3 separate regions of the Homo sapiens genome follow, and regions 1 and 2 are each linked to region 3. Evidence: fine-mapped expression QTL. A gene starts in region 3. Each other region holds a variant in brackets. All regions are shown on one strand. Distances are between the middles of the regions. Region 1 overlaps TTLL5 (tubulin tyrosine ligase like 5). Region 2 overlaps FLVCR2 (FLVCR choline and putative heme transporter 2). Region 3 holds the start of TTLL5 (tubulin tyrosine ligase like 5).

Evidence for each region.
Region 1: its variant is fine-mapped to the expression of TTLL5 in whole blood (GTEx, PIP above 0.99).
Region 2: its variant is fine-mapped to the expression of TTLL5 in tibial artery (GTEx, PIP above 0.99).

What each region holds. Positions count from the first base shown.
Region 1 is chr14:75,713,987-75,716,749 of GRCh38, forward strand. The region is part of intron 9 of TTLL5 (tubulin tyrosine ligase like 5); the gene reads left to right. Among named protein-coding and RNA genes, the nearest start is that of TTLL5, 54 kb to the left of the region's middle. The variant C/A (reference allele first, on the strand shown) is at 1,338.
Region 2 is chr14:75,626,582-75,629,344 of GRCh38, forward strand. All of the region lies in intron 3 of FLVCR2 (FLVCR choline and putative heme transporter 2), which reads left to right. Among named protein-coding and RNA genes, the nearest start is that of ERG28, 33 kb to the right of the region's middle. The variant A/G (reference allele first, on the strand shown) is at 1,050.
Region 3 is chr14:75,659,555-75,662,317 of GRCh38, forward strand. It overlaps TTLL5 (tubulin tyrosine ligase like 5), which reads left to right and starts at 1,692. Exons shown (of 32, transcript NM_015072.5): 1 at 1,692-1,833. It overlaps ERG28 (ergosterol biosynthesis 28 homolog), which reads right to left and starts at 1,322. Exons shown (of 5, transcript NM_007176.4): 1 at 1,221-1,322. RefSeq lists a silencer at 1,384-1,433 and an enhancer at 1,544-1,763.

The DNA.
Region 1 (2,763 bases), 54 kb after region 3:
TCAAGGATCACATGTTGTATTTAGCCGTCGGGTCTCCGTAGTCTCCTTCAGTCTGAAACAGTTCCTTAGTCTTTCTTTGACTTTCATGATCTCAGCATTTTTGAAGATTACAGGCCAGTCATTTTGTGGATTGTCCCTCAGTTTGGGCTTGTCTGATATTTTCTCATGAAGAGACCTAGGTAATGCATTTGGGGCCAGAATACCACAAAAGTGATACTAATTCTTGTCATTGCATTATATGTGATGGCACATGCTAGTCATTTAGTGGTGTTTGACCATTTGCTTTAGGTCATCTGCTAGATTCCTCCACTGTAAAATTATTTGGTCTTACCCTTTGTAATTAGTAAGTATTTTATAAGGAGATACTTTAAATCATGTAAAATTTCATTCTTCATCTCATTTCTCATTTTTAAGAAAAATCTATTGATTTTTCTTGCCTTAATGAATTATTGCTGTAATAGTTGCCAAATGATGATTTTTTAATTCCATCATAACTTTTATTTCTTGGCATTTTTCTGTGAGGAAGAGCTTTATCTTCTCGTTTATTTATTCATCTATTTATTTATACCAATGCAGACTCAAGCGTTCCTGTTTTATTTAATGGGTTATAATTCTTTACTATCATGATTTATTTTGATGCTCAAATTGTCCCAGATTTGGCCAGTGGGAGACCTCTCAAGCTGGCTTTGTGTCCTTTTGACATGTCTTTATCATTCTTTGAGCACAAGATGTTTCAGGCTCATCTTGTTCTTTCTCTATTCTATCCCTGGAATCAACCATTTCTCCAAGGAGCACTGGTTGCTTTTTCTTGGAGTATAATATTTAGAAATCAATATCTGGGTGCTAGATACGCTCATTGTTTTGGGGCATTTCTGCTTTCAGACCCTGGCCATGAGCAGAGTTAGGAAATTATGTATTTATGTACATATACACTTGTACATCTGTATTTCTATATCTGTCTCTAATGTATTGTTGAAAAATAGAAGTTTATACTAGTACGCACAATTCTAGTTCAAAACTACAGAGTTCCTTCTTGTTTTTTGCTTTTCATATTTTAAAATCTCTTTTCCAACAGCAGGAAATCTGGCTCGCAGTATCTTTAACATATTTATTTATTTGCTCAATTCCTTTGTATGTGGCCAGTTTCCTGACCCCACTGGGCCACTGTCCCATTCAGATGCCGTTTTTATATGGATTTATACCCTTATTTGGTGGCCTCCCTGCTTAGAAAACCTCCTTGTGCTTCTGGCTGACTTCCCACCCTACTCACCATCTTCCTTTTTTTTTTTTTTTTTTTTTTGTAACTCACCATCTTCCTCATGTGGGCCCTGGCTACC[C/A]CTGGGCTGCAAGAAGGAAGGTCTGATTTTTATATGTTGTTCAGGTAATTAAAGTTTAAAAGAAAAAACAAAGCTTTTGTAGGTTAATCAGAACTTGACCAGTAGGTCACATTCAAGACTAATGTGACCTGTGGTCTAGACAATAAAAAAGAAAATAGTGGTCAGATGATGATGATGGCTTATTTACTATGGATTTTAGTGAGAGCTATAAGCTCTTACTGGGGTAGGAGGAAAGATGAACATGCACACCTTTTCTCTCCATAGTGTATGTTCCCCACTAGACTGAGGGAGATATGGAGTGGAGCACTTTCACCCTTCAGGGGAACTTTTCCTTTAAGCTTTTTTGTTTCACTTTAATTTTTGCTGCTTCTGCTTCATACACTCAGTTTAGAATTCCACGCTTTGATATTAGAAATCTTATCCTTGCTGGGGTTCAGAATAAAATGCTCCAGTGAAAAGGAAGATTAGGAAGAAGAAACATGATTTTTTTTTTTTTTAGATGTGCAGCCCTCTTGAAAAAAAGAATATAGGAATGACAAATGTGTTGGTACCCGATTCCAGCTCACCACAGACTTTTGTCAGGCTTTTCATGTTGACCAAGTTAGATCAAGTACTTGTAGTAACTACAAGAGATGAAAAGCCTCTTTTTCTGAAGCAGAAGCTTTCCCCTCCTTCTAATTCATTGTTCTTTGAGGGGAGAGGATGACAGGAGGGATGTCACCTTGAGGTAATGTCTGGCTGAGGCAGGCAGCCAGCACGGGGCCCCTTTGCATCTCACAAGAATTCAGAGAATGACAGTCTGCAACTTGCTTGGACAATCTATTAGAGGAAGATTGGGATGCATAGGCAAGGGTTACTCACCAGGGCACTGGGGTGTGACATGGCTAGAAGTTAAGTGATAACTACTGGAAGTTGGAAGTTTCTAGAAAATCTGGGGTCCTTCTCAAGCACAGACATAATAATGCTCATCAAACTCTTGTCTTTTAGCCTAGTCATCATTTTCTCTTTGTCCACATCCTTTTTCCTAGCCTCATGTTTGTTTATTTTAGTTTTTTGGGTTTGGGGTTTTTTTTCTTTTCACTATTCTTTCTTTGGCTCTTGTATATTTCTGGTACAGGGAATTAGGGAGTGGAGATAGTGGGTGGATGAGAAGAAACAGAGAAGAGGAAAGTTTTTTAATGCTGACCTTTAATGTGGTGAAAATTCATGTTGACTTCATAGTCTGAGTAAGCATATGTAAATAATTTGTAAGTCATATGAAAATAAACTTGTGGCCTTCTTTTTTTTTTCACACACTTGGATATGCCTCTTGGGAAAACCACTCTAGTGAAGGGTGATATGGTTACAGTGGTATGTAAACAGGGGTTGATATCTACCATAACCATTCGCCTTGAGTGTCCTTTTGTTGATACTGAGCATCCTTTTG
Region 2 (2,763 bases), 33 kb before region 3:
TTCATCCGCAAAATAAAGACAAAGTTTCCAATGCTTAGAGAAGTCCAACTAAGGAAGTTACAAGTTCCCCATCACCGGAAGGTATTCAAGCATAGATGGGACTAACCACTTGATGGGAATGTTGTAGGGGATCTCAGGCTAAAGATGGATAGTGAAACCAGATGGCCTTTGGGGGCCCTTCTAGACTCAGGATTCCATGACTCTAAGAGCTTTTACTTTCGCTAGAGTTGGACATCATGAGTGCATTGACCTCTGACAACCATAAATCTTGCTGCATCTAACAAGAGGATATTTGAGGCCTACCTGGGATTCTAGGGCAGATGAGTGCTTCATAAATATTTTCTATAGCTGAAAATGGTGACAGTGGTGATAACTGGGCAATGGTCCCATTCCAAAGGCTGTGGTCCTCAGTGCTGGAGGTTGTTGGTCTTAGGGCCAGGTCACTGACTCATGAGAACAAGAAACAGAGACAAAATGTACCAGAAACATTGTTGCTCCTGGTCATCGAGGGGTCAAGCCTAGGCCATGCTGTGGGGAGCAAAGCTACTCCTCCTCCTTCCTCTCACATGCCTGTTTGCTTACGTGGTCTTTAATCTGACAAAGTAGTTTTAATCCTGTACTTCTGGACACTTTTCCTTATCTATTTGATTAAATGATAACCGAGGAAATAAATAGGAAAGCACTTCTTGAATGGTGGAGTAAGGACCTTAGAAAATCCGCTCCTCTATAGAAACAAGAACAATGGCAAAAAATATCCAAATGAATTTTTTCAGAACTTTTAACAAATGGCTTGCAACAATCCAAGCAGCATTTATTCAAGAGAAATGGCTAAATATCAGTAACAACAGTGGGCCTTGTGTTTTCACTTGCCCTATTCCAATCCCTTTCTCCCTACTACAGCCTTGCAGCCATGGGGCTGTGACATCCAGCAGCCTCGCAGCCGTGGAGCTGTGAAAACCAACTGTCTCATAGCCATTGGAGGGAGCAAAGTCGATTTGGAGCTCCACCCCTGAGAATTACTATTTGACCTACCTAGCAGGTCCCCGGAA[A/G]AGCCCTATTCATAGGACATGTTGCTATTTAACCTGACTTGGAGTTTGCTAATGGGAAAAGCCCTATTGCCAGGGCATTTGTTGAAAACAGTCAATGGCACTGCTTAACATTGTAGCTGCCTGCAGTGGGGATAACAGTTGGGGTGAACAAGAGGCTGCCTGAAAATGCTGAAAGGAAACTCTGGAGAATGTGATGTCCATATGGGGTTCTTTGCCAAAAAGAAAATGATTCTTAGACTTAATCACAGATTTGAAAAAATTTTTGACGGAGGAATCATGTTAATTGCTTTACATGCATTATCTCATTTAATTTTCAAAACAAACCCATGACATAGCCCTTTGTTTCATTTTATACATGAGGAAACTGAGGCTCTAGAGTTTTAGCTTCTTGCCTATAGGGCGAGAACTATAGGCACTTACTCCAACTGTTAATCTTTGCTTTCTTTTCCTACTGTGTTTGTTCCAAATTAAAACAAACAAAAACAAAAACAATTTTTTTTTTTAAACAGAGTCTTACTCTGTCGCCCAAGCTGGAGTGCAGTGGCATGATCTCGGCTCACTGCAACCTCCACCTTCCAGGTTTGAGCAATTCTCTTGACTCAGCCTCCCGAGTAGCTGGGATTACAGGTACCCGCCACCACATCCAGGGAATTTTTGTGTTTTTAGTAGAGACAGGGTTTCACCATGTTGACCAGGCTGGTCTCGAACTCCTGACCTCAGGTGATCTGCCCGCCTTGGCCTCCCAACAAAAACAATTTTCTAAAATGCCCTCTATCAATTCAACTAGATGCTTTGAAATCCTCCAGAATTACCCCAGTCCTCCTAATCCCCTTGCAGTTTCAGATTGGACTTTGAAGAACAAAATGGTTCATACTTTTTACATTGTACACATAGTGTTCATATTTAGCTCTGAATTATATGCATTTAAAGAGCATGTGGCTAGGAATTAAGCAGGCAACAGCATTTCACAGGCACATGTACTGGACATGGGTGGACATGTCTTGGGTTAAGAGCCTTGAGTGCTGGACTCGTAAGTTCAGAGTTGGCTCATAAGAAATGGGAGGTCTGAGTTTTGGTGTCAGCTCTGCCAGATACTGAGTGTACCACCTTCATCCATCTGTGCTGCCCATCCTTCATCTCTTTAATACTCTCCACCCCCACTAGAAAACAGTAATGATACTTATTTCCCATTGGAGTGTTCTGAATGGAAGTGAAAGCTTTTAATGCAGTTGAGAATAAAGACATGGCATGCCTCCAGACTGCCAGTCTGCCATTGCCAGACTGCAATGCTATTGCATTGGTAAACTTACTGGTTTCCAGCGTTGCTTCTTTGGTCCAAACCAGATTTCACTAAGAGGGGGAGTAACTGTCCTGCAGCTGGTGGTATTGTATTTGTAGTGGCTTTTCAAGTGGTTCTCCCAGCTGATGAGTCAACTGCCCAGAACTGAGGTGCAGCGATAATTGAAGGCCTTGGAGGAAATCGAGGGTCCAAGTGTTGCTGGCTTTTCCCTAGACTTCTGGCTACACTCTTAGAGGTAGGGTTGAGAGATAAAATAAAGACCATCCAGTTAATCTGAATTTCAGATAAACAACAAATACTTTTAATATAAATATGTCTTATGCAATATTTGTGGCATATTTATACTAAGAACTATTATTTATTATAAATGTATTTATTTGCTATTTTTTTTCAAAATCTGGCAATTCAGTTTAG
Region 3 (2,763 bases):
CACCCAGCCTTTTTTTTTTTTTTTTTAAGGCTTAGTTCAACTCTTGTTGAGTAGTAATTTCAGTTAGTCTGATTTAAATAAAACCAAAATAGATAAATAATCTAATAATGGAATGACTTTTTCCCATCCTCATTATTATTTTCTTGGTCCACGGTTTATCTGTTGTCAGGTTAACCTCTTGGGCCTGAAGTGGTAATAAACTAACAGGCTTTCTTTGTCACTTTGGCAATACAAGTTTCGGTATTGTTCTCTGCTACCCAGTGGGACAGATATTAAAGTCAGCAATGGCCCAAGACAGTGTGAAACACCGCCGCCCCCCCCCGCCAACTCCCCGCCCCAAACAAGCAATAAAGAGATCTAGAGAAGGAAGGGTGAATTGATGAGCCCTTCAGGGAGAGCTGGATCACAAAGGTGGTCTCTGTCGAAGATCAGAGAGACTGAGGGTCTACTGGACATCACAGGCCATTATCATTTGGGCCAAGATCCACCCATCCTCTTTATTTTCTCACTCTCTCTCAAGAGGAGACTCCTCCGGGGTTTAGAAAAGCTGCATGGATGCACCTCTCCACTTTTCTGCACAAGTATGCCTTCCATTTCACAGAAGTGTTATCTGTTAGAAATCCCAACAGATAGCTGATGAGGACAGAGCCTGAGCACTTCTGAATTGCTCTGCCAATTTCTCAACCTAATTTCCCTAAAGCTTAAGGGCCTCTTAGAGTGTATACAACATCTATTTCCAAATTTTGTCCTGGCCCTGGCCCAGCCCAGCCAAGCCCAGCCCAGCATAGGTGTGCTGTTAAAACTTAATCAGGAGAAAGGGATTCTTATCCTGGCCCTACCACTTAGTAGCTGTGTGACCCTGGGTAAGTCATTTACACTTTTCAGTCTCGGTTTCCTCATCTGCAAAATGGAGATAGAAATATCAACCCGAAGGGCTATTGTAAGAATTATATGACAAAAAGTGAAGGCTCTTTGTACAGTGCTAGGCTCATAGTGGCTGCTCATTCGCTCATCCATTCCTTCGTTCCTTGAATTCACCAAGCCTTCTCCATCTTCCTAGCTCCCCCTTGTCATCGCCTCTCGAAACCTTTTCCCCCCAAAAGGTTGCCTTCCAGTTATCTTCCTTCCATCCCACCTCCATTTTTCCAGACTCTCCGGATCCTCTCAATCAGAAGCAACACAGACACCTACATCCCTCTTCTCCCCCATATTCTCCTTACCTGGCGACCGGGCCCCCAGCACAGCAGTGGCAGCAGCAGCCGCTGCCGCAAACAAGCTCCCCCAGGACAGCTCCAGCCCGGAGTCCACCTGAGCCATTTGTCCCCGCCCCCTCCCTCAGCCCTGCTCCAGGATTGGGCCGTTTCCGTCAGTACTCTCTCTGATTGGCTGTCCCGGTTTCGCCCGAGCAGGAGATGGGGAGTGAACCCCTTTACTGCCAATCAGCGGTTGCCGCTGCCTAAGCCTCTCCCCAGGTACGCCGCTCACGCCGTAAGCCCTCCTGTTGGACCTAGCGGAACTCCGGGTTTGGAGTCAACCTCTTAGGGGCGGAGAAAAAAACAGCGGAAAAAAAAAAAAAAAAGAAGACTCCCTTCAGCTGAGGGCAGGGCTCTGCGCCCGCGCTGCGCGGCGGTGACGACATTCGCCCGCGTCCGCAGCTGAGCGTTATGAGCGCCTGCGCAGTGGCTCCGAGCGGGCGGTTGCTTGTTGGTTGTTGTAGTAACCGGGGAAGCAGCCGTCGGCGGCTGCCCTGAGCCTTCCTGGGGAAGGAGGAGGGAGGTAGGCGCAGAGCGCGGTCCACGCCTGCTCGCCCCGAACCATGGGAAGATGAGACAGGTAAACGCCTGCGCCCGCGCGCTTCCCTACCCTAGGGAGGAGCATTCCCGGGTCCGGGCTGGCGCCTGCAGCAGGACTTCCCGCTCAGAGCCCGGGAGTAGCTGTTGGCTTCCGGGCGCGCCGCGTTGAATCGCGGCTGCGGGGTCGTCCCGTCCTTCCCGGGGGGAGCATCTGCGGACCTACGTGGGATTGGGGTGAGCTGGGGGTGGGGCTGAGAAGCAGATTCCTTTCGGGAGAGGAGTCTCCTTAGGTGAGTATCTCTACTCTTCTTCCGATAGACCTGTTTCTCCCCGCTCTGCAGGCAGCCTAGGAGAGGTTGGCATCCCTTCCCGTTTGGAGGTTTTGTTTGTTTAAACTTAAAGGGCTTCCCAGCATTTTGGGAAAGATCAAGAAATCCCGTTGAGAATCCCCTGAAGAAAGCCATTGAAGTTGTTAGACATTGCCTATTGCGCCGAAGATCTTTGATCATTATCGGGGTCTGTTTTTTTTTTGTCTTATTTACAGTCTCATCGTATTTATGAATGCATGGAAAAGTTAAGAAGGATTGACAGCAAGTAATTATCGCTGAGTAATTTGGGATTATGGTCATTTAAACATGTTTCTTTTATTTGTAGTTCCTATTTCTTCTTCTGACACACACAACGAACATGTACTTTTTTACTTTAGAAAAAATATTTTAAGTTAGAAATGCAGTGTTGGAAATTTCCTAATTTCATCGTCTATTTGAGAGTCGTACCAAACTTTGTGATTTTTAGGAAGAATAATTTTTAAGAGTGGAAGGGCATTCCTCCCCTCCCCCACCTATTTATATGGACCTTTGATTCAAGAGAATATATTCATCTTTCGGTTCATTGTTGAATTTATTTTACTGGAAACATGATGGCATCTTGTCAGCGTGCTTGTCATAGAGTCTAAATAAATGTTGGCAGG